4 linked regions of the Homo sapiens genome follow. The protein of the gene in region 1 interacts with the protein of each later gene in a pairwise test. Each region holds a gene or a part of one and is shown on either strand. Other genes may lie near its edges.

Evidence for each region.
Region 2: the proteins of KRTAP17-1 (region 1) and ZNF578 interact in binary tests that used the Homo sapiens proteins (3 or more experiments, as listed by UniProt).
Region 3: the proteins of KRTAP17-1 (region 1) and VASN interact in binary tests that used the Homo sapiens proteins (3 or more experiments, as listed by UniProt).
Region 4: the proteins of KRTAP17-1 (region 1) and DOCK2 interact in binary tests that used the Homo sapiens proteins (3 or more experiments, as listed by UniProt).

Annotation. Positions count from the first base shown.
Region 1 is NC_000017.11:41,314,397-41,320,166, reverse strand, and holds KRTAP17-1 (keratin-associated protein 17-1), read left to right. Parts: upstream 1-4,456; 5' UTR 4,457-4,516; coding exon 4,517-4,834; 3' UTR 4,835-5,255; downstream 5,256-5,770. UniProt on the Homo sapiens protein: In the hair cortex, hair keratin intermediate filaments are embedded in an interfilamentous matrix, consisting of hair keratin-associated proteins (KRTAP), which are essential for the formation of a rigid and resistant hair shaft through their extensive disulfide bond cross-linking with abundant cysteine residues of hair keratins.
Region 2 is NC_000019.10:52,456,524-52,463,553, reverse strand, and holds part of ZNF578 (zinc finger protein 578), read right to left. Parts: intron 6,878-7,030; exon of another isoform or gene 6,818-6,877; intron 6,687-6,817; 5' UTR 6,596-6,686; intron 1-6,595. UniProt on the Homo sapiens protein: May be involved in transcriptional regulation.
Region 3 is NC_000016.10:4,367,862-4,374,851, reverse strand, and holds the start of VASN (vasorin precursor), read right to left. Parts: upstream 3,005-6,990; 5' UTR 2,859-3,004; intron 1-2,858. UniProt on the Homo sapiens protein: May act as an inhibitor of TGF-beta signaling.
Region 4 is NC_000005.10:169,640,272-169,647,301, reverse strand, and holds part of DOCK2 (dedicator of cytokinesis protein 2), read right to left. Parts: intron 1-7,030. UniProt on the Homo sapiens protein: Involved in cytoskeletal rearrangements required for lymphocyte migration in response of chemokines. Activates RAC1 and RAC2, but not CDC42, by functioning as a guanine nucleotide exchange factor (GEF), which exchanges bound GDP for free GTP.

The sequences.
Region 1 (5,770 bases):
TTTTGTTTTTGTTGCATTTGTTTTTGAGAACTTAGTAATGCATTTTTTCCCAAGACTAGTGTTCAGAATGATGTTTCCTAGTTTTTCTTCTAGGATTCTTATAGTTTGAGGCCTTACATTTAAATCTTTAATCCATCTTGAGTTAATTTTTCTATATGGTGAAATACAGAGGTTGTTTAATTCTTCTGCATATGGCTAGCCAGTTATCCCAGCACCATTTATTGAATCGGGAGTCCTTTCCCCAATGCTTATTTTTGTTAACTTTGTCAAAGATCAGGTGGCTGTAGGTGAGCAGCTTTATTTCCGGATTCTCTATTCTGTTCCATTGTATATGTCTGTTTTTGTACCAGTACCATGCTGTTTTGGTTACTGTAGCTTTACACTATAGTTTGAAATTGGGTAACGTGATACCTTCCACTTTGTTCTTTCTGCTTAGGATTGCATTGGCTCTTTGGGATCTTTTCTGGTTCCATATGAAATTTAGAATAGTTTTTTCAAATTCTGTTAAAAATGATGTTGGTAGTTTGATAGTGTTGATTCTGGAGCCATGTTGCAACAGATACTGTATACTTACATCATTTTATATATATCTTGATATATCCCTGTCGTAAACTCTTAGAATATAAATTATTGGATCAATTAGTTTTTGCATTGGTAATTTTGATGGATATTGCCATAAAGGTTGTACCAATTTACACTCCCATCAGCAATGTGTGAGACTATCTGTCTCTTCACTCCTTATTACATAATGTGTTATCAAAATATATGACCTTGCAAATCTGGTAACAGATAGGATTTTGGAATTGTTTTAATCTGCTTTTCTGTTATTGTGAATGCAACTAAGCAATATTTCATATGCTCAAATGCTATTCATATTCCCTCTTCCATGAATTATCTTTTCATCTCCATTGTCAATTTTTCTACTCGGTTGCTGGTCTTTCTCTTTGATTGATGGAAATCCTTTGTTAAATAGAAAATGAAAGCAAGCTTTGTCTATGAGTTACTTGTATTGTTCCCAGGTTTTCATTTGCCTTTGACACTGTATTCAAATAATAATAATAATAAAATGTTTACATTATAAATTTCATACCTACACACTGCAAATTTCTAAAAAATACAAAAAAGAGAAGAAAATAAAAATCATTTATCATGCCACAATAAATACATTTACTGCTAATACTTTAGTTTTCCTTTTAGTGTTTTTTCAAATATCTGCATGTAAATATTTATATTAATGTAGATAAGTATCCATAAAGATATATACATATATAAATATATAATAACATATATTAGTTACAAATTTCAAAATTCATGTTCTAAGATATGTTAAAAATATATAACTTTATTTTCCTCTGAGACTGTTTAAACTTATTTCAAACCCTCATTCCACCTTATGGGGGAAAAAAATAAAAGTCAGTTCTATGTAAACACAGAAATCATTCAGGATTTCTCCCTCCCAACCTTCATCTGGAGGAGGTGTCTGAGCTTTGAGGGGTGTTATGTTTGAATCAAATGGAAATTTCATAGCCTTCAAGAGGCTGGCAACAGGTTCATGGTGGGAATTTGCTGAAATATACATGGTTCTCTCTTACTCTTGGCCCTATCATCCCTCTCATGGCATCAACCAAGATATTAGAGTTCTTTTAGTCCACAAAAGAACTACATCCTCTACGTCTACATCCTCTCATTACCCCATCCAGGCGGCTAGATGGACCTGGTCATCTGACCACCCACTCTCCTGCATTGCAAAAGTCTACTTTGAATTGTATAAGCTAAGCATTGACCTAAGTCATTCTCTCTGCATTTCTACAGTAATAACCCTACCCTGGGGGCAGTAAATATAAAAAGTCCCTACTGCTGCCCAATTTGTGTGGAAAGACCAACAGTGAAATAAATTGCAGAAGAAAAATAACACCACCATGAGGACTTCAAGTCCTCATCATGACATGTACATTTACACAATTGAAATCATAGTGTATAATTTGAGTTGCACACTGAATGTTGTACTTAATCTGAGTAAATGCTCATGAGTATATGAATTGTTAAATATAAAAGTATGATAATTTATATTTTCAAGTTGTTCAAACAACCAAGTGTTCAATATGTATACATTTATATTTACTCATTTAATCAAAACAGCTCTACGACACTGCTACTATTATTATCCTAATTTCTGTTTTATAGATGAAGAAATTCAGGTACACAGGGGTTAAGTAATTATGGGAGCAGCGAGGGGGTGGGTGAGAGGCAGGAGAACTGAATGGTGAGACATTGGAAGATGAGGAAGACTTTCTACTCTTTTGTACCTTTTATCCTGGGAATGCTTGACCTCTTATTAAAATAAATAAATATGTAAAAGGATGTGTCGGCCGGGTGCAGTGGCTCACGCCTGTAATCCCAGCACTTCGGGAGGCCGAGGCGGGCAGATCACTTGAGGTCAGGAGATCCAGACCAGCCTGTGCGACATGGCGAAACCCTGTCTCTACTAAAAATACAGCAATTAGCTGGGCTTGTTGGTGCGTGCCTGTAATCCCAGGTACTTGGGAGGCTAAGTCAGGAGCATCGTTTGAGCCCAGGAGGCGGAAGTTGCCATGAGCCAAGATCAAGCTACTGCGCTCCAGCCTGGGCAGCAGAGTGAGACTCCATCTCAAAAAAACAAACAAACAAACAAAAAAGGACACGTCTGCCATAGACATTGCTGTATTATACTCACTCAGAGGTGCCCATCTGTGGATGTGGTATGGTGGAAGAAACAGTGGACCAGGAGGGAGAACATCTGGGCCATGGGTCCAATCTACCACGGATGTGTCATCTCTGGGCCTTGGTATCATCTTCTGTAAAACACAAGTGCTTGGCAGTGATGGTCATGATAGGATTAGATTATATCAGTGTTTCCTAATGTAACCCAAGTTACCTGAGAAAGTTTAAAATATATAGCTTCTCAAGCTCTCATAAGCACACATTCTGATTTATCATAAGGACTGGAATACAGTTTGGGAATCTGTATTTTTCAAAAGGCCCCCTTTTAGGCAATTCTGATATAAAACCCTGGACCAGATGATGTTTCAGGGGTTCCTCCCAGCTCTAAAATTCCATATCCTGTGAAGTATTGAGTATCATATCAGATCCAAGTAACTCATTCATCATTTACCCTCCCGACTCCCACCCTGTCCTTAGTTCTTCTAGCCCTTCTTAGAGGCTGTCTTACTTCTAGCCCATCTTACAAAGAAAGGGAAATGAAAAGGGAAGGACTAGATCCCTTGATCCAGATCCTTACTCCCATCCCTCCTTCCATTCCCACCCCACCCCTATCTTCTGTCCTCTACCCCTACTAGATGTTGTATTCCAGCTCCAGGGCTGCCATGGGCACTCCAAGAGGAGAACAAGGTACCAAAGTCCAAGAAAGAGACAGAAATTTTGACCCATCTCAAAATTTACACATGGACCTGAACCATCTGTAGATTTTAGACTCCTTGCAAAGGCATTTTATTCCTTGGGATGACACTCTGGGTATTTTGTATTCTAATTTCTCCTTCTGCCAGATGGTCTATAAGGTTCGAACTCTTAAAAAAAGTGCGTTACATTCCCATTTTAATGTAGCATTTTGGATATTTACTGATCTCCTTCCTGCTTTCTTCTTTCTTTTCTTCTTTCCTTTCTTCCTCCCCTTCTCCTCTTCTTCCTCCTCCTGCATCTCTTCCTTCCCCGGTCAAGGAAAGGCCTGGGGCTGGAGTGGGGGTGGGTAGAGGGTTCTGATCTCAGTTCTTCCCACCTATTTAGAGAGAAGTGCGAATATTCAGCTCACCTTGCCGCCGAGACAGACCATGCCTTACCAGCTTCTTGCAGCTTTACGATGAGTCTCTCTCGGTTTCACAGGGCAGTTATTACTCATGACTGATGCTCACCGGCCAAGCCTAAACGTGTGGCACACTCCCCATACCACACACAGACACAAACATTTGCCTGGCTCACATGAACCGGGATGAGGATGCCATTTCCACCTGGGAGGAGCCACGTGACCAGGCGTTCTCAGTAGCCTCCACTGGTGTCAGGGGGAACAGAGCATTCGGCTGTTGCCGGTCTGCCTTTCCAGGACTAGCATCCATGGAAGATGGGGTCCATCGCCAACCTGCGAAGATGTGGAAGGCAAGCCCCTCATTCCAGAGCCAGAAGCTGTGGCCGGCTTCCCCTTCCCATCTCCAACCTGGGCTAATGACAGCTGGCAGATGCTTGGCCATGATGACAGGTCTTTTCGAAGATGTATTTTTACCCTCTGGATAAACAGCAGTTGGCAGGAGTGGGGCGTTTTTATGAGTTGAGGTACTCAGGACTGGAAAATAAACAGCCAGTTAATGAGCCGGTCTTATGGAAACTTGCATAAATAATAACAAAGAAAACATCCCGTCCCTCATGCCTGGGTGAGGGGATATAAAAGCTGCCATCCAGATGGCTGGCCACCGTCAGTCGTGGGGAACTCCGGCTGCGTTACCGACCTGCGAGCTGACGGGCCCGGACCATGGGGTGCTGCCCGGGGGACTGCTTCACCTGCTGCACCCAGGAGCAAAACTGCTGTGAAGAGTGCTGCTGTCAGCCGGGCTGCTGTGGCTGCTGCGGCTCCTGCTGTGGCTGTGGGGGCTCTGGCTGCGGGGGCTCTGGCTGCGGGGGCAGCTGCTGCGGATCGTCTTGCTGTGGATCTGGCTGCGGAGGCTGTGGAGGCTGCGGAGGCTGCGGGGGTGGCTGCTGTGGATCCAGTTGCTGTGGGTCCAGTTGCTGCGGCTCCGGGTGCTGTGGGCCTGTGTGCTGCCAGCCCACACCTATATGCGACACAAAATGAAGACCTTTCCCTCCACCACTGATGCAGTCCCACCGAAAGCCTCCATCTGCTCCAGGGGGACAGCCCCTCGTGTCCAGAACCTTCCATACCCCCAAGACAGTGTCTTGTCTTTCTGTGATTTGTAGAGGAGGGCTTGTTCTCCAACACCTTCTCTGGTATTTCAAGGCACCGAGAACAAGAGCCATACTCTGATGAAACATTAAAACTCGGTCACAACTAAGTGATCCCAAGCTCAAGGGTGAATCCCCAATACTTTACTTATTCACATGAAGTTCAATGTCTTGTACTATAAGACATCCTCTTCTTCAAGGTGTCTTTGGGACTGATCCTCCGCCCTGGCTTTCTGCAGCTTTGAGATGCAAAAAAGGTCCATCTTCTTTGTGAGCCTCTTAATAAATTTGAGCATGCTGGCATAACCTAATTAGTTCTCTTGCCTCTTCCTTGACCTCCCTGCTGAGGACTGGGTTAGAAAAATTCACTCTGGCATCTGCCTTAGGGTTTTTGAATTGTGGTTTTTGGATCACCTGCGTCGGAATCACCTGGGAGCTTGTTAAAACTGGAGACTCTGAGGCCCTCCCTAAGACATACAGAATCAGAATCCACCAAAGTGTGGCCTGGGAATCTGTGTTTTTAACAAGAACCTTAGATAATTCTTATGCACTGAAGTTTGAGAACCATAGATCTAGACGGAAGCTTCCGTGTGCTGCATGAGATTCACTTGAAAAGCTTTTAAAAATATAGATCATTGGGTTTTATCACTGGAGATTTTACCCGTTAGCTCTAGGGCCTAGAGTCCCTAGGGACCTGCATTTTTAAAAGCTCCTGGGTGAATGCTGATGCTGGCCACATTTAATGGTGATTGAGGGGCATGGCTTTCTTCTGCACTACAGCTCTCCTAGGATGGTTCTGCAGGAGGGCTTCAGGCTTGATCAGAAC
Region 2 (7,030 bases), on another chromosome or scaffold:
CTAGCACATACCAATCTTCCAGGACCCTTGACTAAGGCTAATCAGCAAGCTGACTTGTTGGTTTCCCCCTCACTGACTGATGCCCCAAATTTTGACTTACCTCAGTGCCAGGCAATTACCACATCAAAGAACTGGTGTTAAGCCTCAAAGGTTGGCACCTGACAAGATCTGGCAAATGGACATCACCCACGTTCCTACATTTGGCAAACTTTCTTATGTCCATGTAACCAGAGATACATATTCTCATTTTATATGGGCTACTTGCCAAACTGGTGAGACTGCAGCACATATAAAAAGACGTTTGGTTTCCTGTTTTGCTGTCATGGGAATTCCAAAAAAATTAAAAACAGACAATGGACAGGCTACTGTAGTGGAGCATTAAACACAGTACAAGTATCCCCTATAATTCTCAAGGGCAAGTGATTGTTGAGCGAGCCAATCGAACCTTAAAAATGCAATTACATAAACAGGAGATAGGGGGAGATAGGGAATATTCCACCCCTCATATGCAATTACAATTGGCTCTTGTTACCTTAAATTTTTTGAACATCTCCCAGGATCAGGTTACTACAGCAGCTGAGCAGCATTTAACAAGACAGAAGATAAATGTTCATGAAGGAAAACCTGTGTGGTGGAAGGACTTTAAAACAAAGACCTGGGAAAGAGGGAGAGTTATAACATGGGGAAGAGGGTTTGCTTGTATTTCCCCAGGAGAAAACCAGCTTCCAGTTTGGGTACCTACAAAACATCTTAAACTCTACCATGAGCAAAATTCCAAAGAAAAGGATTTTGGAACCAAGATCTCAACCCCCAAGCACACCTTGATGGCTCAAATGAACATTTCAGCTGACCACATGAAGACAAACAAAACCCGTCAAGTGAGCCCACTGACTTGGGACACATCAAGAGGCTGACCCAGCTTGCAGAAGAAAACCTGAAGGCACAACAAAAACCACTAAACTCGAGTAACCTCATCGTGGCTATGATTGCGGTAATTGCTATGACGGTAAGTCTCCCTGTGACTACAGCAGACCAAAATTATACCTATTGGGCATATGTCCCATTCCTGCCTTTAATTAGGTCTGTCACTTTGTTGGAACCCCCAGTTGAGGTTTATGTTAATAATAGTGTTTGGATGCCTGAGCCTACAGATACTCATGGGCCCTCTCACCCAGAGGAGGAAGGAATGTTAATAAATGTGTCCATGGGTTATCAGTCCCCCCTCTTTACATAGGGCCAGCTATCGGTTGCCTAAAAGGCTATCAACAACATTGGCTAGTTAAGACTTCAGGTCATAATCAAAGACCAGTATCCTATCATTTACTTTCTGGATGGAGCCTGGCTCATTCACAGAGTTCGGTCCAACTGGAACAATTTAAGACCAGAAAAGAGAGGTGTCAACAATCTCAACAATGGTCAAAGGATTTAGAAATATTGATTTGGAAAGATTGCATTGCTGATCATGGTGTGCTACTGCAAAATAATTCCTATGGAATCATCATTGATTGGTCCCCTAAGAGGACTTTTGCAGTTAATTGTACCAATCAGAATGATAGATGAAAGACAAAACTAAAACAGGATCTATACTATCAAAGAGATGACACTACTTACACTGAAAAGTGTGCTCATTTTCCCATAATTTGGACCAATTTTGGTACAGCCGGACCACATCCAAAAATAATTAATCCAATAATAGGCCCTGAACACCCTGAACTATGGAAGTTAATGATGGCCCAATCTCATATTCGAGTTTGGAAGGAAAATACTATCTTGATGGAGAAGGTGAGACACTTCAATTTGTGTATCAGTTTTCTTCCAACAGAACAGTATCCATTCAGAGTTGTGTCAAGCCTCCTTTCATGTTGATGGTCAGAAATATTCATATATGACCTAATTCTAAAATTATTAAATGTCAAAACTGTTGCCTTTTCACCCGTATTGATTCCACGTTTTGTGTGAAAACATCTGTGTTGCTGGTAAGGGCCAGAGAAGGAGTTTGGATACCAGTTTCCCTCAATAGACCATGGGAAGCCTCTCCTTACATTCATATCATCACAGAAATGTTAAGGGGAGTGCTGCTGGAATTGCTTTACATTCCTCTGTTCAAACTGCAGAATATGTAAATAATTGGCAAAATAATTCCTCAAAATTGTGGAATTCTCAGACTCAAACAGACCAAAGAAAATTGGCAAATCAATGATCTTAGACAGACTGTTAATATGGATGGGAGATTGTATAATGAGCTTAGAGCATCTATTGCAAATGTAATGTGATTGGAAATACTTCTGATTTCTGCGTAAATCCCCATTCACATAATGCTACTGAACATCATTGGGAAAAAGTTAGACATCATCTGGAAGGAAGGGATGGAAATTTAACATTGGATATAGCCAAATGAAAGGAACACATTTTTGAAGCATCTCAGGCGCATTTCACTCTCCTGCCTGGAATTGACATCCTAGCTGGAGCTGCTGATGGACTTTCAAATGTGAATCCTCTTAAATGGACCGTTGGAGGATCAACTATTGCAAATTTTACTTTAATGTGTATCGGTTTATGCTGTTTGCTTTTAGTCTGCAGATGGGGAAGATGCCTCTGGAGAGAGACCAGACACCATGAACAAGCCATGATAGCAACGGTGGTTTTAAAAAAGAAAAAATGGGTGGTGTTGAGGCTGGTCCCCAACAAAAACTATATCACTACTATTAATATAATTCAGAACAAAAACAATGCCATCATCTCAATTGATGCAAAAAAAGCATTAGGAACAATTCAACACCATTTCCAGATTAATACACGTAACAAACTAGGATAGAAGAAAACCTTACGACACTGATTTTGGAAAGGATTTACTGGATATAATACCAAAAGCACACGCAAGAAAAGCAAAACACTAAAGGATCTACATCCAACTTAAAGTTTTTGCACTTCAAAGGAATCGATCAAAAGAAGGAAAAGGCAAACCTACGGAATGGGAGAAGAGTTGCAAATCACATATCTGATAGGCATTAATAGATTATCAAGTAACTTCTACAACTCAACACCAAAAATAAATAACCCAATTAATGAATGGGCAAAGGAACTGAACAGATGTTATTCTAAAGAAGATGACAATATGGCCAACAAGCACATGATAAGATGCTCATCACCACCAAACATAACACAAATGCCAATCAACATTACAATGAGGTATCACCTCACACCCATTAGGATGGCCATCATCAATAAAAAAAAAAAAAGTGTTGGAGAGGATGCTGAGAAACTGGAACATTTGTGGACAGTTGGTGAGAATGTAAAATGGTATACCCATTACTGAGGTCAGTAAGGGGGTTCCTCAAAATATTAAAAACAGTACTACCATATAATCCAGCAATCCCACTTCTGGGCATGGGTGTGTGTAGATATTTTATACATCTATATACATACACACACGTATATATATTTGTGTGTGTATATACACACACACGTACATATTTGAAAATATACATCTGGCCAGGCACGGTGGCTATGCCTGTAATCCCAGCACTTTGGGAAGCTGAGGTGGGTGGATCACGAGGTCAACAGATTGAGACCATCCTGGCCAACATGGTGAAACCCCGTCTCTAATAAAAATACAAAATTAGCTGGGCATGGTGGCACGCACCTGTAGTACTTGGAAGGCTGAGGCAGGAGAATCACTTGAACCTAGGAGGCAGAGGTTGCAGTGAGCCAAGATCGCACCACTGCACTCCAGCCTGGTGACAGAGTAAGACTCCATCTCAAAAAAAAAAAAAAAAAAAAAAAATATATATATATATATATACACACACACACACACACACACACACACACACACACACATATCTACATATACACACTCATACCCAGAAGTGAGACTGCTGGATCATATGGTAGTATATATATGTGTGTGTGTGTGTGTGTGTGTGTGTGTGTGTGTGTGTACATACACATTAAAGACTTGAAAGCAGGCCCTCAAAGAGATATTTGCAAATCCCTGCTCATCACAGCATTATATACAATAGCCAAGAAGACAGAAAAACCAACATGCCTATCTACAGATGAATGGATAAAGAAAATGTGTTATACACATGCAATGGAATATTATTCAGCTTTATAAAAGGAGAAAATCCTGTCATATGCTACAACACGGATGAACCTTGAGGACATTACACTAGGGAAAATAAGACAGTCACAAAAGGACAAATACTATGTGATTCCACTCACGTGGGATACTAAAGTAGTCAAATGCATATAAACAACATAGAAAGATGGGTTGACAGAGGCTATAGTGAGGTCAGAAGGGATATAGTGTATTCTGGGTATACAGTTTCAGTTTTGCGAGATGAAAAACTTCTAGATATGTTGCACAGTAACGTGAACATACTTAACATTACTGAACTATAAACAGGCAAATAAACTTTACTAAAAGACATAACAAAGAGCATCATGGACCGGAAAACCCAATTCTTATTAGCAGATGTGGTGACACAAAGACCTCTCTGACTAGGAATCCACAGCCATTCAAACACAAAAGAAATATATGAGTTTTTAATGACTGTGCCCTGTGAAAGGAGAACCATCACAATTTTGAAAAGAAAAACAAAATGGAGGGGTTTTCCAAATATGTAAGAACCTCTTATGACAAACATCTGTAATTTTACAACAAATCAAATACTTATGATATACGCAAAAATTCAAATTAAACACAAATGTAAACAAAATTTTAAACAACAAAACTTTATTCCTAAATGAAACTTAGTACTTCATAATCATGCAAGGCCTTCCAAATCAAGATGAAACAAACAAAGGCACAACAAAAATCAGAAGGTATAAATGAAAGATTTGTCTTACAATTAAAAAATGTATAACCTGAAATAAAAGACATCAGGGCATATGAAAGAAATAAAAACCACAGAAATTAAAACACATACTAAAATACATGGAAAGAAAATTGAGCAAAGCATGAAAATTCATTTTGTATATACATGTCCCCAAAATAATAAAACCTATGTAGACAATAAATTGAAAAATGAAAATACAGAGGGTTGTCATTTTTCCCAGATTTTCAAAATATATATATATATAAACATAGTAGCAAGTTGTTGTTTTTTTTTTAATGAGGGCAAAATTTCACATGTTCTTGATAGGAGAGGTACCCCTGCAGCTGGGGATAACAGGGGAACCTTGAGAGATCTAAGAAAATAGGAAATGCCCCATCCTAGAAGAAGTATTACCCAAGTCTTACCATTTTCACCTGAAACATCTGTTTCACAAGAGTCTCTGCAGGAATACCACAATCTCCATAGGATGGATGTACTTAGAATGGTTTAAAGAATCTCTTGCTGTTAAACATTTACTACAAATGGAGTATAAAATCAGGCAGAAAAGATTTCCTCTTCCTAATCTCTTCTTCCAAATTTTATCAGGCAGTTGTGCACATTAAGACTTCCACGAGCAGCTTCCATAATCCAGTCTACAGAGCTGGCAGTGCCTCCAGACCTGGCCCTTAAACAATCCTTCAATTCCTGCTGCCCAAGAGCAGTGACACCATGGGGCCCACACCCCGTCTCCATCCATGTCTGGGTATAAGCCCTTCCCAATGGAGCCTCTTCACAAATTCCACAGCACCAGTCACTGTGAGATGGAATTTAAGTGACATCAGAGGGCCTGAGGGAAGACATGGGTGAGTGTGAGCAAACATCACAGGCAGCATGCTTCAGACTCAGAGAAGACTGACATCTCCAATGCCTGATGTGTACAGGGAAAAGCTCTCCTCAAATTGTGCTTTTCCTCTACTCTCACACCACAACAATCATCAACATAGAAGACCTCTGTGACTAAATGTATGTGGGTACTTTCCCCACACACCAAGCAGCAGACACTAGCTGGGTATCTTCCAGTTTAATTCCAACACTATCTACTGTGTACATTAAGACTGGAGACGTCAGATCCCACGAGTTGATGGCTCAGTCTCCAAGATTGCCTCCATACACACCAGTCGCAAGTCCAGGCCTTCAGAACTTATGACCACCCAGCTTCAAACTGGGGTTCACACGACCCCCTCTTCAATTAATTTGCTAGATTGGCTCACAGAACTCAGGGAAGCACTTACTTACCTTTACCAGTTTATTATAAAGGATACTGCAAAGGATACAGACGAAGAGGCACCTACAGCAAGGTATGGAGGAAGGAGTGCAGGGCTTCCATGACGCCCCTGGGCTTACTACCTCCAAGAACCTCCACGTGTTCAGCCATCCAGAAGCTCATCGAACTTTGCCCTTTTGGGTTTTTATGGAAGTTTCATGACATCAACATTCTTCCCCCCAGGGTACAGGGTGGGAAGCTCTCGGAGGAGGGTCTTAAGACCCACAATTAGAAAGGCTGGGGAGCATCAGAGTGAAAGGAAGGCAAAAGAAGGTCAGAGGCCTACCCCTGAGGCTTAACACATCCAACATTACAACAAAAGATTGTAACAAGGGCTATGGAGGTTATAAGCCAGGAACCGTCGATGGAAACCAATATATATCATAACACCACACATGGCATTTCAGAAAGGAAGGAGACACACAACAGTCCACTGAGAATATCACTGTACCTAAGAGGCATTCCTGACTCCTTTTCTTTCCTCTTCCTCCTCTTCTAGGCTTCTTCCTTAGGAGAGATGAAAGAGACTTTAGAAGCTAATCCTGAAAGAAAAAGAAAAAGAAAACTTTTTAAAAAACAAGTTAATCCTGAGTGTTCAAAATATGCTGTTTACTGCTCAAAATCAACACACCCCCTCCCTGTGCCACAACCACATACACAGGAAAGACCTCGCCCTGTGGAAAGATGGCCCTCTGCTGCCCACAGCACCAGGGATGATGCAGACAAGAAAGTCCTACAGGAAGAACAAGTCAGTTTTTGAGTTCTTCAAAGCTTACTCCCCACCTGGAGAAGCCCACATACATGCTGCAGCTGTGGGGTGCTGGGCTGGACTGAGCTCCCCTTCAGGGCACAGATCTGGCCCTGACCAAACCCCATGCAGAGCACA
Region 3 (6,990 bases), on another chromosome or scaffold:
CCAGCCCTAAGCTTCCTGGGCCTGGGGGTCTGAGAAGGAAGTGGCCCTGGAAGGGGTCTTGCCCTTCTCAAGCTCCCCATGCCGAACCCCCCACAATCACCCAGGGTTCTTGGCCAACCCGTGGCAGAAATGGCGCCCCTGGGGTCTGTGAGCTGATCAATGGGCAGGCGGGATGGATTCAGGGAGGCAGAACAGGACCTGGCCACTGAACCACAACCCTGCCCCCGCACTGCTCTCAATGCCCAGCCGGGCTCGGGGCCCAGGGCCAGCAGGGGCCCCAGCGGCCGCCCCAGCCCCTTCCCGGTGTAGGCCGGCTCCCTCCTCCCTCCTTAATTAAATCTCTCAGGCAGCCCCTGAGGAATGTCAGAACCTTATTGCATTCCCCACGAAGAGTCTGGTGGGGGCCGTCCCGAACCCTGAAGAATAACTGGCCCCTCGCCTGCCCCCACCCCCTGCCCAAAACCGAGGTGGCCTGAGGGAGCCTCCTCCAGCCTCCTCACACCCAGGGAGGCTGGAATGAGGAAAAGCGGGGGAGGCCGGCGGCCCAGCGCGGAGGGAAAGCGATCCGGCTGACTCTGGAATGTGGAAACCGATAAAAGGAAGGAGGCTGAGGCCCTGCCCCTCCTGGTGCAAGCAGGCTCCCCCAAACACCCCCACCCACCCCCAAATACACAGCCCTGCTCCAGTCACGCGCACACAGACACGCCCACGCCAGACACACGCCCACTGGGCAGTGCTCCTGCAGACACACACACACACACACACGTGCACCCTCCCCCTTCTCCAAGAACTCACGCAAATTCCACAGCAGTGAGGGGAGCTGGTTTTCTTGGCAGCACAGAGCCTTGGGCTCCCCAGCCCAGGGAGGGGACTCTAAGGGCAGCTGATGGGGGGTCCAGGAGAGGTCACTAACAGAGTTAGGTGGCCTTGCTGCCCTCCCATGAGCTCAGGGCTGGCCAGTGGTCAGGGATAGCCATCCCTGTGGGCAGCCTCCCCTCTACACACCTCTGCTCACTGGCAGGACTGGCTGTCTGGCCTGCTGAGGTGGGAGCTCCCTCCTGGGCTCAGCAGGGCCCTGCTTTCTTGTTCCCAGAGGCTGCCCAGTGTTGTGTTGGGACCCACTTATAAGCCCAGGCAAGGACTTAATTTTCTGTACTTGGGACTTGTCCCAGCTCCCCCGGGGCTGTCAGTGGGGGTGACAGTAATGGGAGCTAGGAGCCGCGGACCCATCTCCTGCCCGGGGCATCTCCCTTGCCATCTCCCTGGCCCCTGGGCTGCGTGCCAGAGGGGCCTTCCTCGGGTAAGCACAGGTCTGGGCAGTGTCTGAGAGGCTCCTTATGCTGAATCCCATTCTCCCATTCCCAGAATATGGAGAGAGAGGTGCCATCTGGACAAATGCCCTGGGACCCCAGCCCCCAGCCCCATCCCCATCTGACCCTCCGGACCCACAGGTAGCAGGACAGCTGTTCCAACGTGCAGGAGACAGGGGCGGGGTGGGGACAGGCAGTGCCCGGCCCCCAGGCTGGCATGTGTGTGCGCATCCTCCCTCCCCAGGCCCAGGGGAGGCTAGATAATGGTCTGGAGGGGATCCAGCTGGGCTGCTCATCACCAGAGCCTCTTCCTGCCTCTGACACTCTGTTTACAGAAGCTCCAGGCCAACTCCCCTGGGAGAAGAGAGTAAACTCAGGGGACTGCTCCCCATCCCCCACCCGCCTGCCCCAGCTCTGTTGGGTTTTTGTCAATAGCTGGGCCCATCCTGGACTTTGCTGCCCCCTGGACTGGCCCTAATGGACCCTGCTTGGAAGGTCCCAGCCCGGCCACCCCTCTATGCCCTCAACACCCAAAGTACAGTCTAGTGTGAAGGGACCTTGGAGATTTTATCCAATCCCCAGCCCTGGAGGCTCTCAGCCTGGGGAAGGGGGCTCTAGGTCCCGCTGCCTCTCTCCAGAGCCTCACCTGTCCTTGGTGCAAAAGGCAGGCATGGGGACACCTAGACCCCCAGGACCTCTTCCTTCCACCCTGCACACTCCACCCCTGGGCCACAGCAGGGGAGGCGGTCAGTGACCCTGGTGTGGCAATCGTTAACGAATGGGGGAGAGGCAGAATGGTTGGCACCAATCGGCTGGCCTGCCAGTGACCACAGGGGACCTCAGCAGTCCTCAGGCCCCAGCACTGCCAGCCCAGGGACACAAAGGACTAGGCTGGCTCCAGGCCACTGGGTTTGCAGCCCAAGCAAAGCCCCTTCCCTGGCAGAGGCAGAGACCCGGCACCCTGCCTGATACCCGAAGCTCTAAGGGCCCTGGCCAGTACAGGTCCATCCCCCACCTGGAGGGATGGGCATCGGACGCCCACCAGCCACTCCCCGCCCCTCCCTAGGGCTGCATATCTGTAGCCCCCAGCTGTGCTTTGAGTGACAAGGGTCCAGAGGACCCCGGGCAGCCCTTCTGCACAGCAGCACCTACTGCCGGACCCCAGGAGGGAAAAGTGACCCAAGCCTGTGGCTTGGCTATCCCCCTCAAAGGGGTTTGATTCATAAAACTGGTCATGCCGGAGGCCCAGCCGTGGGAGGAGGAAGCATGGGACGGGGTGTTTATTTTGTCTGCTTGCAGCCTCGCGGGCTCACCGCACACTCAGGCGCGCACCCTGGCCGGCCGCGGGGCTGTCGGCGCCCCAGGACGGCGGGGGAGGGAGCGTACAGGGCCTGCCCGCCGGGCGGCCCAGGTGACCGTGTGGGGCTGGGGCCGCGGTCCCGCCCGAGAGTGCGTGTGTGCGCGCGGCGGCGGTCCCCGCGCGTGTGCACAGCCTGGCCGTGGCGCCCCCTTCCCCGCCCGCAGCCCCCCAGCCCCACAGAAACTCACCGGGAGGCGGCGGCGGCGCAGGGAGCCGGGCGGGGCAGGCCGCGGCCTCAGTCTTTCCTGGCGGGTCGGGCCCGAGGGGGTCCTGGGTCCCGAAGCAACTGCGTTCGAGTCCGCGTCCACCCGCCCCGGGCTCGGGCTCCGGAGTCGGCTCGCTGGAGGCAGGTCGCGCCTTAAGAGTCCCGGGGGGCGGGCCCGCCGCGGCAGGGGCGGGGCCTCTCCCCATTGGCCGGGGCGGAGCCGCGTGGAGACACGCCCCTTCCCCACCGAGGGGCTCGTGGGCCGGGTTGCCCTGGCCCTCACCCTGCGGCCACCTGACCTGCGCGGGGAGACCTTGCCCGTCGTGGGTTTGCCGGATGACACTGGGCAGGTTTCTGCTTTTTGTGTAAAAAGCGAGAGACTATTTAGGAATCCTAAGCGTCACAGCCCAGATGCCTATGAGGCACCAGGCAGGTGACAAATGCCAGAAGTCCACCCCAGGGCCTCTGCGGCCCTGGAGAGGCAGGATGGCGGGAGTGGGGCTGGTAAGGGCTGAGTCCTCATGACCAGCCCGGGCCAGCTAGAGCTTTGGATTTTTGAAGAGAAACTGGAAATCCAGATTTTTAGGTGAAATCTCTCAATGTGTTATTGTTGGTAGCTAATCCCAATTTCAAAAAACTCCTGGCAGCCCACACAAAGCCCTTTCAAGAGCCTCCTAAGTATAAACTCCAATGCCAAATCTGAGCTCAGGGTCCTCTTAGCCACGACAGCCTTAAGAGTTGTGAGCAGCCCTGGACTCTCTTCCCCACCATATTATGAGATGAAGGGGCTGTGTCAGGGAGGGCAGTGGTGGTCTGCCCACGGCCCCACAGTTACTGGCAGCTTCAAGCCTGAGCTGTGGAGGCATAGGGGTGGTCACCGTCGGTGGGTGGGGCCTGGGCTGCAGTTGACAGTGGCCCTTGATTGGGCAGGAGGGGCGGGTGCCAGGGGCCGGACTAGTCCAGAAAAATCCCCTGCCTTGGAGGATTCCAGGAAAACACTCTGCCCTCCTCCCCCTCCGCGTTTGTGGTCAGTCATGCCTCAGAGCCTTTGGGGGCCCAGCTCAGCTCCTGACTTCCGGAGAGCCTTGGGACACCCACACCCCCTCCAGCCCGGCCTGTAGCCAAGGCCCTTGGCTGGGCTAGCTCTAGTCTTTGGGGGGCCTGAAGGCTTATCCCTGGGAGGCTGGGCCACACCAGCTGGAGGGTTTCCTAGTCTCTGGAGGACTCAGTTATCTCCAGAAGGCAGGATGGCCTCTGTGTCTAGCCGTCAAGGGCTAAGCAGGGCCTGGCTGGGACAGTCACCTTCTGGACCTCCCGTCCACAGGGCCCTCTCCCCACAGGGCCCCTTTCCAGGGCTGGCAGGGCTCCACAACCCATACGTTTCTCGGTCTACATGGATTAGGGCATGGCTTGCGGACCTCTGTTCCTGGGTTGGGGCTGGCCTTTGGGTGCATTTAGTGCAGGCTTTATGGGAGTTTTTACAACTTTGAAGGCACTGCTAACATTGAAAAATCAGGTGGTTTCATATTAAAATGGGGCTTCCCAGCTTGCATTGAACAGGAACTCTCAGCTGGGGCTGAGTGGCGGTTGCTCCCTCTGCCAAAATGTGGGCTCATGGGTCACCCCAGTCCCCACCACTCCCTGCTGCCTCCTGCCAAGCTGTCCACTCACTTGAGTTTCCTGCCCGGCCCCAGAACCATCTGAGTTTCCAATCAGTGCTGTGCAGCCTCTTGTCGGACTGTTTCCCTGCCTCTTCCCTTGGCCCTGTGTCCTCTGAAGCCCTCAGAAGCATCCACAGATGCCCAGGGTCAGGGGTAAAGAGGGCTCCAAGAGCCTCCAGCCTGGCTTTCCTCAAGGAACAGGACCTCCTGATGTCCTTGAAGCTTCTCACCTCTGTGGCAGGTTCTTGTAGACGGAGAGACCCCATCTGCCTGGTGTTCACCCCCTGCCCCAATCCTGTGCCCTGGCCTTACACAGGTCCCCACTTACCCAGAGGCTCAAGGGAAGCTTTTAGGAGACCCCTCTCAGTTTATCCAACATTGCCTTGTATGGTTTCAAGGTGCCACCCGCCTTTAGAACCTGGTTACCAGCAGTCTGCACACAGCGGGGGAGCTAGGGGCTGTGGGGGTGGAGGGGGGTCAAAGGATCCTAACTAACTCTCCAGCCTGGGTGATAGGGACAGATCCAAGGGACCCAGCCTGCTTTGAACTGGCGCAATGGCAGAATGTCTGGGTTGGTGGGAAGGGGCCTGAGCGGGAGGGATGGGCTGGAGGGGAGGACAGAGGAGGAGCCTTGCAGCTGCTCCTTGTAGCAAGCACACCCTTGGTGCTTCCCCTCGGTGCTAATCACAGGAGTCCTGGGAGAGCTGGCGGGGCTTATCCGGAGGCTGAAACTGCTCGTGCCTCCCAGTTGGTACTGAGGTTGTCTTCTAGCTCCTGGGACCTGGCTGAGGGGCGGGGGCAGATCTGGGCTTTAGACCTTCTATAACTTTATGCCTGGGACAGACCCCTGGACCTGGGTCAGGGTCAGAGCCCTTCCCAGTGGCAGGCCCAGATTCCAGCAGGAGAGGTGCCGGCAATACCTCTTACCACCTCTGGCCCTCTGCCTGGCTGGGGCTCATGTACCATGTTCCAGACCCAGACCCAGCTTGGCTCTCTTCACACAGCCTGGGGTCAGGCCCATGCCAACACTTGGCCAACCTTTGGGGCTGGGTGCCATGACCCCATTTCTTGGCCCGTGCCACGGCAGACAGGATGCCCCTGCCTGGCAGAGTTGTCCAGATGGCTCTGCCTGAGGCAAGGAAGACTGGCCTGACCTGTCAGAGGAGCCAGCCCTGCCCTCCCTGACTTCCTGCCCACTCGGCCTCAGCTCCTGAGTCAGTGGCTGGCTGGCTGGGACGATGGAACGGGGGTGAGGGAGGCTGAGCACCAGGCCTCCTCAGGCAGTTGGCTCAGCGCACAGGTGAGCCTCTGATGCCATGAGGTGGCCCCAGGCCTGTTTCCCACCTCTCATAAGGGCAGCAGAGGGGCCACAGGAGACCTGCCTATCCTACTTGCCCTCAGCTTCTGTCCTGGCACCTGTTTCCACTCCTCCCAGCCTGTGCCCCCAGCAGCCAGTGTGATCCCTACTCTGTGCCAGTCTGGTCCTATCCTCTTTCTATTTTTATTTTTTTGAGATAGGGTCTTGCTGTGTTACCCAGGCTGATGTGATTTTTTTTTTTTTTTTTTTTGAGATGGAGTCTCACTCTGTTGCCAAGGCTGGAATGCAGTGGTGCAATCTTGGCCCACTGCAACCTCCGCCTCCCGGGTTCAAGTGATTCTCCTGCCTCAGCCTCCTGAGTAGCTGGGATTCCAGGTGCACGCCACCATGCTCAGCTCATTTTTGCATTTTTAGTAGAGACGAGTTTTCACCATGTTGGCCAGGCTGGTCTCAAACTCCTGACCCAAAGTGATCGGCCTCCCAAAGTGCTGGGATTACAGATGTGAGCCACCATGCCCAGCTGGCGATGCGATCTTGACTCACTGCAGCCTCAAACTCCTGGGCTCAAGTGACCCTCCTGCCTCAGCCAGCCGAGTAGCTGGACCACAGGTGTGCACTACCACAGCAGGCTAATTTTTAATTTTATTTTTTGAGATGGAGTCTCACTCTGTCACCCAGGCTGGAATGCATTGGTGCCATCTCGGCTCACTGCAAACTCCACCTGCCGGGTTCAAGTGGTTCTCCTGCCTCAGCCTCCCAATTAGCTGGGATTACAGATGCACACCACCACACTTGGCCAATTTTTGTATTTTTAGTAGAGACAGGGTTTCATCATGTTGGCCTGGCTGGTCTCAAACTGCTGACCTCCAGTGATCCACCCACCTCGGCCTCCCAAAGTGCTGGGATTACAGGCGTGAGCCAGCATACCTCGCTAATTTTTTAATTTTTAATTTTTTGAAGAGCCATGGTCTCATGATGTTGCCCAGGCTGGTCACAGTGTTGACCTACTGGGCTCAAGTGATTCTCCCACCTCAGCCTCCCAAAGTGCTGGCTGGGATCACAGACATGAGTCACTAGGCCTGGCCTAGCCTCTTTTGCTTGAAACGCACCGTCACCTTTTCATTGCTCGTCCACTG
Region 4 (7,030 bases), on another chromosome or scaffold:
CATCTAATCAACAACTATCCATCCACCTATGAATCCACCTCTTCATCCATCCAATCAGCAGCCGCTGAGCACCTGCTCTGTGCTGAAGAAGAACAACAGACATGGCCCTGCCATCATAGAGCTTGCATTCTACAGAGGTGCCCAGATCATTCAACATGAGGCTGCAAGGAAGTATGAAGGGGATGATGGCAGCTCTAGTAACATGAAGCAAAGGGGGCACTGCCCCCAACCTGTCCAATGGGGACATTAGTACTAATAATGGTGCTCTCTGCTGCCTCATACAGAAAGAGAGGTTATGACTGGACTGTAAGCTTCCCGAACTGTTTTATTCATCTCTGGGCCCAAACACCCAGCTAAGGACCATCACTCAGGACAGGCTTACTGAACTTAATTGATCTGAACAGACTGTAAGAATTGTTTTCCGACTCTTGACAAGCTCCTGGCTTCAAGAATTCAAACCTTAGGCAGAATGCTTTGGCTATACCTATTGTATTTGTTTACTAAATAGTTACAGAGTAAAATAAGCACATTTTGCCAGGGACCTTAACTGGCTTCCATGAATGAGTTTTGGCGACATTACAATGCAGAACTGCACATGTGCATATTTTAATGGGAAGAAGTGTGTTTCTAGCGGTCACAGGATTCTCAATGGGACCTATGCTACAATAATGATTAGTTTCTCTGACCTACCACGTTCCTGCTATTGCAGTGATGCTGAATGGACTCAAAGTTAACCCTCCATACAGCTCTGCCCTCCAACAATGTACCAGCTAGTGGGGAAGATGACATGCAGTTACCTAACTAAAAGACAAGGTGAAAAGGGGCAACTTCCATAAAATAGAGGGAATTTTCAGAGAGACCTCAAAGATCTATGCCTCAGTTTCCTCACCTGCAAAATGAAGACAGAAGTTATTTTTCTTAGGGTGTCTGTGAGGGCTAAACATGATGACACAAGGGCTTTGTAAATGTACCATGCTATGGGACTGGTACTCAAACAGATATATAGACCAATGGAACAGAACAGAGACCTCAGAAATAACACCACGCATCTACAACCACCTGATCTTCGACAAACCTGACAAAAAGAAGCAATGGAATAAGGATCTCCTATTTAATAAATGGTGCTGGGAAAACTGGCCAGCCATATGTGGAAAACTGAAACTGGACCCCTTCCTTATATCTTACACGAAAATTAACTCAAGATGGATTACAAACTTAAATGTAAAATCCCAAACCATAAAAACCCTAGAAGAGGCTGGGCGTGGTGGCTCATGCCTGTAATCCCAGCACTTTGGGAGGCTGAGATGGGCGGATCATGAGGTCAGGAGATCGAGACCTTCCTGGCTAACACGGTGAAACCCCGTCTCTACTAAAAATACAAAAAATTAGCCGGGCGTGGTGGTGGGCTCCTGTGTAGTCCCAGCTACTCGGGAGGCTGAGGCAGGAGAATGGCGTGAACCCAGGAGGTGGAGCTTGCAGTGAGCCGAGATTGCTCCGCTGCACTCCAGCCAGGGAGACAGAGTGAGACTCTGTCTCAAAAAAATAAATAAATAAAAATTTAAAACCCTAGAAGAAAACCTAGGCAATACCAATCAGGACATATGCATGGGCAAAGACTTCATGACAAAAACACCAAAAGCAATTGCAGCAAAAACCAAAATTAACAAATGGGATCTAATTAAACTGAAGAGTTTCTGCACAGCAAAAGAAACTATCATCAAAGTGAACAGGCAACCTACAGAATGGGAGAAAATTTTTGCAATCTACTCATCTGACAAAGGGCTAATATCCAGAATCTATAAGAAACTTAAACAAATTTACAAGAAACAAACAACCCCATCAAAATGTGGACAAAGGATATAAACAGACACTTCTAGAAAGAAGACATTTATGTGGCCAACAAACATGAAAAAACGCTCAACACCACTGATCATCTGAGAAATGCACAATGAGATACCATCTCATGCCAGTCAGAATGGCGATTACTAAAAAGTCAAGAAACTATAGATGCTGGTGAGGCTGTGGAGAAATAAGAATACTTTTACACTGTTGGTGGGAATGTAAATTAGTTCAACTATTGTGGAAAACAATTCCTCAAGGATCTAGAACGAGAAATACCATTTGGCCCAGCAATCCCATTACTAGGTATATACCCAAAGGAATAGAAATCATTCTACTATAAAGACATATGCACACGTATGTTTATCGCAGCACTATTTACAACAACAAACACTTGGAACCAACCCAAATGCCCATCAATGATAGATTGGATAAAGAAAATGTCAACATATATACCATGGAATACTATGCAGCCATAAAAAGAAATGAGATCATGTCCTTTGCAGGGACAGGGATAAAGCTGGAAGCCATCATTCTCAGCAAACTAACACAGGAACAGAAAACCAAACACTGCCTGTTCTCACTCATAAGTGGGAGTTGAACAATGAGAACATATGGCCACGGGGAGAGAAACATCACACACTGGGGCCTGTCAGGGGGTGGGGGAGTTGCAAGGAAGGGAGAGCATTAGGACAAATAGCTAATGCATATGGGGCTTAAAACCTAGATGACGGGAAGATAGGTGCAGCAAACCACCATGGCACATGTATACCTACGTAACAAACCTGCATGTTCTGCACTTGTATCCCAGAACTGTCAGTAAAATTAAAAAAAAAAAAAAAAGTACCGTGGTACAAAAGGTAAGGCAATGGCATGATTTATGCCAATGTCGATGACTACTTAGATCAAGGTTTTCACTAGGGAAGGCCTCGATGCAGCCCTCATTCTTCTAGCTATTCAGACCAGAAACCTCGGAGTCACCACTGGCTCCTCTCTCCTTCTCATACCCACATCCATTCCAAGAGGAAAACCCCATTTGCTTGACCTACAACACATACATCCCGAATCTAAGCATATCTCACTGTCTCCACTGCTCCCTCCTGCTGCAAGCCACCGCCATCTCTTGGCCTGAGTTATCACTGTTGCTGCCTAACTGGTCCCTCTCCTTCCACATTTAATTCCCCCTGATTAATGCACCATAAAACTGCTATGTTCAATCCTCTTAAAACTTAAGACAGGTCGTCCTACAATTCTACTCCAAATCCTGCAATGTCCCCCTCCCCCATTCAGAGTAAAAGCCAAGGACCTCACAATACCTACGAGGCACTGCTCCCTATGACCTCTCTCAGAGAATCCATTCCTTACTGCTTTGCATCTTGCTTACTCTACTGCAGCCACACTGGCCTCCCACACATCAGAGAGGCTTCCTCCTCTTTATATTGGCTATTCGTTCTACTTAGAAGGGTCCTTCCCTGACTGCCACCGCCAGGGAAGCCAGCAGCAAAAACCCACTTTCCAGGCAAACCCTCAAGGTTCAGCTGACACTGGGATGGCCCTGCTGCTGCAGCCCACCATGTCAGTCAGGGTGTCTCTAGGCCTGGCATTGCACCATTTAATTCAACCAAACAAATGCCTATTACCCCATTCAGACCCTGTGCCGTGACAGTGTGCACGTCATACTGTCCACCTATGTCTCCAACCATCATCTTAGCTTAGGCTGTGATCCAAGGGGCCGTGTGCAGTCAGGGGAACTGAGTGCCCTAGAACAGGGGTCCCCAACTCCCCAGGCCACCGACCGGTACTGGTTGGTGGCCTGTTAGGAACCGGGCTGCAGAGCAGGAGGTGAGCAGCAGGCAATCCAGCATTAGCCTGAGCTCTGCCTCCTGTCAGATCAGCAGGGGCATTCGATTCTCACAGGAGCAGGAACCCTATTGTGACCTGCACACGCGAGGGATCTGGGTTGTATGCTCCTTATGAGAATCTAATTAATGCCTCATGATCTGAAGTGGAACAGCTTCATCCCGAAACCATCCCTCCCGCCCCGCCCCACCTCCCCATCAGTCTGTGGAAAAATTGTCTTCCACCAAACCAGCCCTGGTGCTGAAAAGGTTGCAGACCACTGCCCTAGAGTGATGAACGGAGAGGGCTCTGGAAAGTGTCCACATTGGCGGTCATACTTTCTCCAGCCTCAGTTTCTGCCACCATGACTTTAAACCAAAGCAGAAGCTGACCTGGTGGGGTGCAGGGAGACAAGGAATGACTTTCTCCAAGGAGAACTAACAACAGAATAAGACTTAAGCAGCTCACAAACTCAGCCTGACTGTTTTTCAATTCACACCAATTAAGGGAAGGGGGAAGAAAGGAGAAAGTGCCTATTAAAGGGAACATTTGTGGTGTCTCCGCCCAGACTCCTCTGGAGTTGCGTGGTGATAAGCACTGTCATTCCCCATTTGCAGAACATATGCTGCAGAGCACAGACTGTGGCACCCATGTGTAATTGACTATTGAAAAAAAAAACAAATCCAAAGGTCCAGAAATTAGCGGAGCAGTATGGTGACTACATTTCATCTCTCAAAAGACAGCAGCAATAGGATGCTGATCTCAGGAGGAAGCAGAGCTTAGAAAACACAATCTGTCTTCAAGGCTCATTCAAATGCAAACATTATGGTCAGGGGCAAGATGTCCACTGCCTAATGAGGTGCCCATATAACTACGGATTAGGACAATCTCCTTACATGAACTCAAACAGCCAGCCCAGCAGGCACTCCTAAACAGACCCAAATTGCTGAAGCATCTGAAAGTAGGAAGCCCCGGCACCTAAGAATTGGTGGCAGGAAGGAATTAGATGTCTAATCCATGTATTTTTGTTTCACCAGACTAATTTCTGGGGACCAATCCAAAGGTACAGTCAGCCACTGTAGCAAAGATGCATGTATTAATATCCCTCCAAGCATTGGCTTTGGGATTCTTTTCCCCATTGCTCCTGAGAGGCCTTCTCACATCATCTAATTCAAGACCATTCCTAATATTCTCACTCATATTAAAACAGCACATATCACAATTTGTAATTATATGGTTACTGATTTATTCATGAAATTCTTTTTCATCTTCCCTATTAGACTACAGGCTCCAGAAGGATAGGGGCCATATTGGCCTAATTCTAGTAATCTCAGTGACTAGCATAATGCCTGGCACACACACCCAACAAATATTTAAGAAGTTAATGAAGAATGAATGAGTGAACAAATGGACAAGTTAATGAGTGAGTGATGCTCTCTATCCTTTCAACTGTTGCATTTGGCAATAAAAGCAGTATAATTGGTCCCTCTGTAGTGAAGTTCTGCTCCTGGGTATGTTTGGGATGCAGTTTCCACTCATGCTTCCAACTCAAAGAATCAGTCCCCACCCATGGCTCCTGCTAGAGGAGTAGCAAGCCATGTGACCCCACCTCATAGTCACAGAGAATTAGACCTGCCAGGGGCAGCACCCTCACCAGAGTGAGGCCCATTATTAGGCTGGCAATGAACTCTGACTTGGGTTGTCTTTCTTACAAAGGGAAATCAAGCTACCACTCTCTTCTGTTGGGACTTTGAACAAATAAACACAGAGAAGATTCAGTGGATGCTTGAACTGCAAGGTTGTGCAGAGATGGGTGGGTTGCATGCTGGGGCCACCACTGTGGTATTAGAGTATCAGTTACGAAGGAACAATGCAATCAGAGGGAGGTGGTGGGGAGAGAAAGGAGACCACAGTTGGCATGCTCAGAGAAGCTGAGAAGCCATGAGAGGAGAGGCAGAGGTTTCCAGGGTTGCCTCAGTTCAAGCCCTTTCCGAGGCCTGGCTCCTCCTGTTTCCTGGATTTCCATGTGATTCCTCTGACCCTAAAATACACCACTTCTCCCTGCTCTCCCACAGATACACACCACACACATTTTCGTTGAACTGGTTTGACTAGATTTTGTTCCCTTCAACAAAAATCCATGTGCAAATGACACCAGCACACATTGCCCACGCCAAATCTGTCAGTGTGCATGGATCAGCTCTGTCCAGGGTCCTGGGCTGCGACAGCATCACCCACATCCCTGAACCACGAGCTGGTTATGGATTCCTCCATATTCCCCAACCAAGCTGTGAAAAAGATCCCTTCTCTGCTTCTGCAGAGCCTGTTATGGTTTGAATTGTGCCCTCCCCCTCCAAAAAAAGAGACGTTGGAGTCTCAACTCCCAGTACCTCAGAATGTGATCTTATTTGGAGACAGTCTTTACAGAGGTAATCACATTTAACTGAAGTCACTAGGGTGGGCCCTAATCTAATATGACTGGATGTCCTTTTTAAAAGGAGAAATGCGGAGACAGACACGCACACAATGAGAATACCACGTGAAGTTGGAGGCAGCGATCAAGGCAACGCTTTTGTAAGCCAAGGAATGCCGAGGATTGCCAGCAAACCACTGGCAGCTGGGGGAGACACCTGGAACAGATTTTCCCTCAGCCCTCAGAAGAAACCAACAAATATTCCTCAACACCACACATGGGTGTAAAACCATAGCTAGAGAGAAGCTGCATACAGAACAGGTTTCTGATCAAAATATGCCACTTCCATAGGGCATATTGATTATTTTGAGCTGGATGCAAATAAGAATCAACAGGTACAGCAAGAAGCTTTCCTGGATATTTATCTGAAGAAACTCCTAAGAAATAAGGACTGTCATAAATCCCCTCTCCCAGGGAAGTTTTATGGCAATGAAGAAGACAGAAAGTTGGCTCCAAGATGAACCTGCACAAATAACCCTTTATCTTCCATTAGATTCCCCATATATTTCCCTTCCCACAGTTTGCTGCCCTTGGAGGCCTAAAACCCTCCTTTGACTTGCTACTTCTCTAAACCTTTATTGTACCTTTGCTAAGATGCTGTATAAGCTCAAGTTCAAACCAACCCTTTGAGTACTCCATATGTAAGCAGGATGTACATGCTAATAAACTTGTTTGTTTTCTCTTGTTCATCAGTCTTTTGTTAGTCTAATTTACAGAAAACCCAAGATGCAGTAGCAGAAAGAAGCTTTTCCCTCCCCTACAAGAATAACTAGAGTCCCACACAAATCTGCCTGGCAGGCTCAGCTTCAGGGTAAACAAAACTCTTTTCTACCCTCACCCTTTATCTCAGGACTCCTGCCTTGAAGCCCTCTTTATAGT